Homo sapiens: one gene and its partner. The protein of the gene in region 1 purifies or fractionates together with the protein of each later gene. This does not show direct contact. Each region holds a gene or a part of one and is shown on either strand. Other genes may lie near its edges. The genes, in order: DDX19A and NUP88.

Region 1 (3,818 bases):
CCTGTAATCCCAGCATTTTGGGAGGCCGAGATGGGTGGATCACGAGGTCAGGAGATCGAGACCATCCTGACTAACACGGTGAAACCCCATCTCTACTAAAAGTACAAAAAATTAGCGCGGCGTGGTGGCGGGCGCTTGTAATCCCAGCTACTCGGGAGGCTGAGGCAGGAGAATGGTGTGAACCCGGGAGGCAGAGCTTGCAGTGAGCCGAGATCACACCACGGCACTCCAGCCTGGCAACAGAGAGAGACTCCGTCTCAAAAAAAAAAAAAGTTCAACAAGATAGTCATAACATTCACACACATAGTTTTCCAGTCTCAAACAACAAATACTTAGAAAATGGAAGCATAGATCTCATTGATAATAGAAAAAATAAATATTTAAGATCTCTGAAGAAAATGTCAAAATGATTTTAGAATAAAAGAGACACCGGAGCACGGTGGCTCATGCCTGTAATCCCAGCACTTTGGCAGGCCGAGACAGGCGGATCACCTGAGGTCGGGAGTTGGAGACCAGCCTGACCAACATGGAGAAACCTCGTCTCTACTAAAAATACAAAATTAACTGGGTGTGGTGGTGCATGCCTGTAATCCCAGCTACTCGGGAGGCTGAGGCAACAGAATCACTTGAAGCTGGGAGGCGGAGATTGCAGTGAGCTGAGATCGTGCCCCTGCACTCCAGCCTGGGTGAGAGAGCGAGACTCCGTCTCAAAAAAAAAAAAAAAGAGGCCAGGCTTAGTGGCTCACGCCTGTAATCCCAACACCTTTGGAGGCCAAGGTAGAAGGATTGCTTCAGCCCAGGAGTTTGAGACCAGCCTGGGCAACGTCGGGAGACCCCATTTCTAAAACACTTAAAAAAAATTAGCTGGATGTGGTGGCACACACCTGTAGTCTCAGCTACTCGGAAGACTGAGGTGGGAGGATCCCTTGAGCCCAGGAGTTAGAGGCTGCAGTCAGCTGTGATCACGCCACTGCACTTAGCATGGGTCATAAAGCAACACTCTGTCTCAAAACAAGGAAACATACAATGCAATGATACAGTGATAACAGTAATATATCTCTCAAATATAATCCACGTTCTCCTATCTCCACTTGTGCCAAAAGTATTCTTTTTTTTTTTGAGACCGAGTCTATCTAGCTCTGTCACCCAGGCTGGAGTGCAATGGTGTGATCTAGGCTCACTGCAACCTCCGCCTCCTGGGTTCAAGCAATTCTCCTGCCCCAGCCTCCAGAGTAGCTGGGATTACCAGCGCCCGCCATCATGCCCAGCTAATTTTTGTATTTTTGGTACAGGGGGTTTCACCATGTTGCCCAGGCTTGTCTTGAACTGCTGACCACAGGTGATCCAACTGCCATGGCCTCCCAAAGTACTGGGATTACAGGCATGAGCCACTGCGCCTGACGCCAAAAAATACTCTTTTTTTTTTTTTTTAGACGGTCTCACTATCTTGCCCAGGCTGGACTCAAACTCCTGGGCTCAAGCAATTCTCCTACCTCAACCTCCCAAGTAGGTGGGACTCCAGGCACATGGCACTGTGCCCAGCTCATCTTTATTGCTTTTTGTTTTGTTAAATCCAAGAGCCAGTCAAGTTTTGCTTGTTGCATTTAGTTGTCATGTCTCTTAAGACTCCTAAATCTAGAAGAATTTCCTCACCTTTATTTTATTGCCTCTCATTACAATGACATCTTGAAGCATCCAGGGTAGTCTTTTCTTTTTGAGATGTAGTTTTGCTTTTGTTGCCCAGGCTGGAGTGCAGTGGTGCAATCTCGGTTCACCACAACCTCTGCCTCCCGGGTTCTAGCAATTCTCCTGCCTCAGCCTTCCCGGGTAGCTGGGATTACAGGCATGTGCCACCACACCTGGCTAATTTTGTATTTTTAGTAGAGACAGGGTTTCTCCATATTAGTCAGGCTAGTCTCAAACTTCTGACCTCAGGTGATCCGCCCGCCTCGGCCTCCCAAAGTGCTGGGATTACAGGCGTGAACCACCGTGCCCGGCCAATCTGGTTTTTTTTTTTTTTTTTTTTTTTTTGAAACGGAATCTCGCCTCTTGCCCAGGCTGGAGTGCAATGGCATGATCTTGGCTCACTGCAGCCTCTGCCTCCCGGGTTCAAGCGATTCTCCTCCCTCGGCTTCCTGAGTAGCTGAGATTACATGCACATGCCACCACGCCCAGCTAATTTTTGTATTTTTAGCAGAGACGGGGTTTCACCATGTTGGTCAGGCTTGTGTTGAACTCCTGACCTCGCGATCGGCCCACCTCGGCCTCCCGAAGTGCTGGGATTACAGGCATGAGCCACCGCGCCTGGCCCCCAGGGTAGTCTTTTACTCCTAGGCTCAAGTGATCCTTCACTTGATCTCCCAAATTGCTGTGGTTATAGGCGTGAGCCACCGTATCTTGCCCCAGGTTAAATATTTTTGTGGTATAAATTTTCTTTTTTTTTTCTTTTCTTCTTTTTTTTTTTTTTTGGAGACAAGGTCTTGCTCCGTCACCCAGGCTGGAGTGCAATGGTGCAATCTTGGCTCACCAGCCTCGACCTCTCAGGTTTAAGCGATTCTCCTGCCTCAGCTCCCTCAAGTAGCTGGGACTTACAGGCCTACACCACCATGCCTAGCTAAATTTTTTGTAGAGACAGGTTTGGCCATGTTCCCCAGGCTGGTCTCGAACTCCTGAGTTCAAGCGATCCACGTGCCTCGTCCTCCCAAAGTGCTAGGAGTACAGGTGTGAGCCACCATGCCCAGCCAGGTACAAATATTTTCGTAAGATTACAAGCCAGGTGACATTGTTACTTCCTGTTGCACTATATCGGGTTTACAATTTTAAGAAATTTAGCTTTTAGCTGCTAAGTTTCAGGTACAGTCTTCCAGATCAAAAATATCTTCAGCTGAGCGTGGTGCCTCACACCTGTACTCCCAGCCCTTTGGGAAGCCAAGGCAGGATAATGACTTGAGCCCAGGACTTTTTAGATCACCCTGAGTGACAGCAAGACTGTGTCTCAAAAAGAAAAAATATATACTCAAATACTTTCATTTCTCAATTGTTTTTTTTCTTCCAGACTCGCAAAACAGCTAGTTGGCTGGCAGCAGAGCTCTCAAAAGAAGGCCACCAGGTGGCTCTGCTGAGTGGGGAGATGATGGTGGAGCAGAGGGCTGCGGTGATTGAGCGCTTCCGAGAGGGCAAAGAGAAGGTTTTGGTGACCACCAACGTGTGTGCCCGCGGTGAGCAGAGGACGTGTCCCACCTGGTCTGCCAGGCTCGGGGTCCCAGGCCCAATTAGAGCCAGAAATCCTTGTATACAGGGAAGTCGGATGGTCTCAGGGAGATGGGTGGGGTTGGTGACACTATTCCTTTCTAGGAGAGACTGTTTGGATTTCCCTGAGGTGGTAAGAACTCACACATGCCAGGTGCGGTGGCTCATGCCTGCAATCCCAAGGCAGGAAAATTGCTTGAACCCTGGAGACAGAGGTTGCAGTGAGCCGAGAATGTGCTATAGCACTCCATCCTGGGTGACAGAGTGAGACTCTGTCTCCAAAAAAAAAAAGGAAGAGGGCAGGCCCAGTGGCTCACGCCTGTAATCCCAGCACTTTGGGAGGCCGAGGTGGGCGAATCACCTGAGGTCAGGAATTCGAGACCAGCCTGACCAATATGGTGAAACCCCATCTCTACTAAAAATACAAAAATTAGCCGGGCGTGGTGGCATGCGCCTGTAATCCCAGCTACTCAGGAGGCTGAGACAGGAGAATCGCTTGAACCCGGGAGGTGGAGGTTACGGTGAGTGAGATCGCGCCATTGCACTCCAGCCTGGGCAACAAGAGCGAA
Region 2 (3,818 bases), on another chromosome or scaffold:
GATGACTTGTATGGTACTGTGAATTACGTTTCAAAAAGCTGTTACAGGCCAGGCGTGGTGGTTCACACCTGTAATCCCAGCACTTTGGGAGGCTGAGGCAGGTAGATCACCTGAGTTCAGGAGTTCGAGACCAGTCTGGCCAATACCGTGAAACCCTGTCTACTACTAAAACCTGGGCGTGGTGGCGTCCACCTGTAGTCCCAGCTACTCAGGAGGCTGACGCAGGAGAATCACTTAAACCCAGAAGCCGGAGGTTGCATTGAGCAGAGATTGGGCCACTGCGCTCCAGCCTGGGCAACAGAGGGAGACTCCATCCAAAAAAAAATAAAGCTGTTATAAATTGAGTATCCCTACTCTGAAAAATTTGAAATCCAAAACTTTTCTTTTTTCCATCCTTGAACCTGAGTGAGCTACAAAAGTTTTTGAGTGCTGTCATGACAACAGAAATGCTCATTGGAGCATTTAGGATTTTAGATTTTCAGATAAGAGATGTTCAACTACTAAGTATAATGCACATATTCCAAAATCCAAAAAAAAAATGTGAAATCCAAAACACTTCTGATCCCAAGCATTTTGGATAAAGGATACTCAACCTTTATGAAAATAAAATCAGTGTGGGTAAGCAGCACCCTAGAAGAGAATGATTTCACTGTTCTTAGTGAAACATTTTTGCATTCAGAGACATTACGAAGGAAAATCCTACTTCTTGGGGCGGAAATCTAGACCCCCTGGGAAAGCGTATGCCTATGTCAGAAAAGCATAGTACTTGAGAAGCAATGTTTTCAGACAAGAACCTCACTGCATTTAACCCAATATCATTAGCATTTTAATTTGGAGACTTGTCTAAGCATCATTTCATTTATGTAATGTCTTCCATGGTAGATGAAGAAGATAAGGATAGTTTACAGGAACTCTCTACAGAACAGAAATGCTTTGTTGAACACATCCTTTGTACGAAGCCATTGCCCTGCAGGTAAGGACTCTCCCTCCCTTGTATATCAGAAAACAATTGTTCATTTCAGCAGTTCAGATACGTTTGTATCCGTTACACTCACATCCACAGTATTCACTGCTGAGTCATTTGAAAGTTGCAGACGTGATACTTCTCCCCTAAGAGTGTCCTGCTCATCAGAAGCTTTCTCCTCTCCAGGGCCACTCGACATACTGTTTCCTGACTGGAAGGTCCTTCCCCAGCCCCAGCCCCAGCCCCAGCTTGCTGTCTTCTCTTGGCTAACTCCTACCCTTCTTTCTGATCTTAATGTCACTTCTTCACAGAGAACACCCTTGACTCCCCAGTCTAACTTGGGGCTCTCCTATTCTCTTATCCATTGTAGCACATATTACACTATTTATATTTGCATTTTTTTAATGTCTGTCGCCACTACCGGAATGTATATGTTTCATGAGAGCAGAGACTGTGTCTGCCCTTCACTGCATTGCTGTGTTTATTTGATGTGGTTGCCCATGTCTCCTCTTTGAAACACATTCTCCTTGGCATCCTTGACGTCTGTCCCTCCAGGTTCTCCTTCAGTCCCGCCAGCAGCCCTTTTCTCAAGTTTCCTTCTTGGGCGGGTTCCTCTGCCTCTACTCACTGCTTATAAGTAATGCTCACAACTCTTTCCTTGGGTCTTCTCTATTCTTTCTAGGTCCTTTCCTGAGTAACTTCTGCCGTAATCATGGCTTCAGTGCTGACAGTTCCCGCATCCATATCGCCCTAGCCCAGACCACTCTGAACTCCAGATTCACATACCCAGCTGCCTACTGGGCTCCTCCACTTGGATATCCTATAGGAACATAAAACTCCAGATGTCCCCTTAACTCATCTTCTGTCTTTCCAAATCTGCTCTCTCTCCTGTGTCCCATTTTTCTGAAGGGTGCCATATCACCCCAGTTATCCCCAGTAGAAACCTGGAAGGTATTCTAGATACCTCCCTTTATTCTGTTCATCAATTACTAGATATCTCATAAGCACTCTGTTAGACATGGAGTATACACAGACATGAGACAAATAGCATACACTAAGAAATAGACATAATCTAGGTTTGGCAATACAGAGGACCACAGGGAAAACGCTTGGTGGGGAATGAGAAGGATAGCAAACTGTACCAGCTTGAAAAGTGAACAGTGAAACCAGGCACTGTGGCTTACGCCTATAATCCCAGCATTTTGGGAGATCGAGGTGGGTGGATCACACGGTCAGGAGTGCAAGACCAGCCTGGCCAAGATGGTGAAACCCCATCTCTGCTAAAAACTACAAAAATTAGCCAGGCATGGTGGCAGACACCTGCAATCCCAGCTACTCGGGAGGCTGAGGCAGGAGAATTGCTTGAACCCGGGCAGCACAGGTTGCAGTGAGCTGAGATCATGCCACTGCACTCCAGTCTGGGTGACAGAGTGAGACTCCATCTCAAAAAAAAAAAAAAAAAAAGAAAAGTGAACAAGGAAAATACATAATAAAATCCCATGTAGGCTGGGCATGGTGGCTTACACCTATAATCCCAGCACTTTGTCAGGTGAGGCAGGAGGATCACTTGAGGCCAGGAGTTTGAGACCAGCCTGGGCAACATAGTGAGACCCTTTACAAAAAAATTTAAAAATTAGCTAGGTGAGGCCAGGCGTGGTGGCTCACGCCTGTAATCCCAGCACTTTGGGAGGCTGAGGCAGGCGAATTACTAGGTCAGGAGTTCGAGACCAGCCTGGCCAACGTGGTGAAACCCCGTCTCTACTAAAATACAAAAAAAAAATTAGCTGGGTGTAGTGGCGGGCACCTGTAATCCCAGCTACTCAGGAGGCTGAGGCAGGAGAATCGTATGACCCTGGGAGGTGGAGGCTGCAGTGAGCCAAGATCATGTCACTGCACTCCAGCCTGGGCAACAGAGTGAGACTCCGTCTCAAACAAAAAAAAAAATTAGCCACTGTGGTAGCATGTACCTGTGGTCCCAGCTACTCAGGAGGCTGAGAAGGAAGGATTGTTTGAGCCCACGAGGTCAAGGCTGCAGTGAGTCGTGATCGCACTATTGCACTCCAGCCTCGGCAACAGAGTGAGACCCTATCTCAAAAAAACCCCAAAATCCCATTTATATCAATTTCAGAAACAGGTAAAATTAAACAGTCTTGCCTAGGAGTGAATACATAGATAGGAAAACTATAAAGCAAAGCAAAGACATGATATTATGAATGTCAGAGTAGCGGCTACTTCTCTGGGGAGTGAAAGGCTATGACCAGGGAAGGTCGCATGGGAACCCTGAGGCCCCCTGCAGTGTCCTGATTCTTGACCTGGATACTGGTTACATAGTGTATAGCCCAGTAGTGTGTAGATTTCACACTGATAATAAAAAGTTAAAGTTTACAACCTTCCAGATATCGTCTCCATGTCTTGTCCAAAAAGGTAAATGGGAGCTATGGAAGGGGAACTAGTGTTTTCAACTGCTGTTTAAAGACTGCTGGTTCTAAAGGGATGGCGAGAAAGAATAGGTTAAGGGGAACTGGACATTATATTGAAATGAGAGTATTTTAAATGGAAGAGACATGAGTTTGCAAGCTGAGGGGAAGTAGATAATAGGGAGATTTTGAAACGACACAGTTGATGGTACAATTTTCAGAAGGTGTGAGAGGAGGCGGCATCCACATTCGGGGGCAGATGTGTGTTGTAGGCATGCAGGTGGGATGGGCATGGGAGCCGCTAGGAGAGCATGTTGGCAGAATGACAGTTCCCATCTGAGGTCTCAGTTTCCAGTGTCTTCACTGAAGTGGGAAGGAAGACTGAGAGAGATACACGCTGTGCGTGCCAAGTGATTTCCTGTGACATTGACATTGGG

The links.
Region 2: the proteins of DDX19A (region 1) and NUP88 purify together in Homo sapiens (affinity purification with mass spectrometry; 3 studies listed by BioGRID and IntAct, with this or other methods). This does not show direct contact.

The regions. Positions count from the first base shown.
Region 1 is NC_000016.10:70,367,168-70,370,985, forward strand, and holds part of DDX19A (ATP-dependent RNA helicase DDX19A), read left to right. Parts: intron 1-3,055; coding exon 3,056-3,218; intron 3,219-3,818. UniProt on the Homo sapiens protein: ATP-dependent RNA helicase involved in mRNA export from the nucleus.
Region 2 is NC_000017.11:5,392,046-5,395,863, reverse strand, and holds part of NUP88 (nuclear pore complex protein Nup88), read left to right. Parts: intron 1-882; coding exon 883-973; intron 974-3,818. UniProt on the Homo sapiens protein: Component of nuclear pore complex.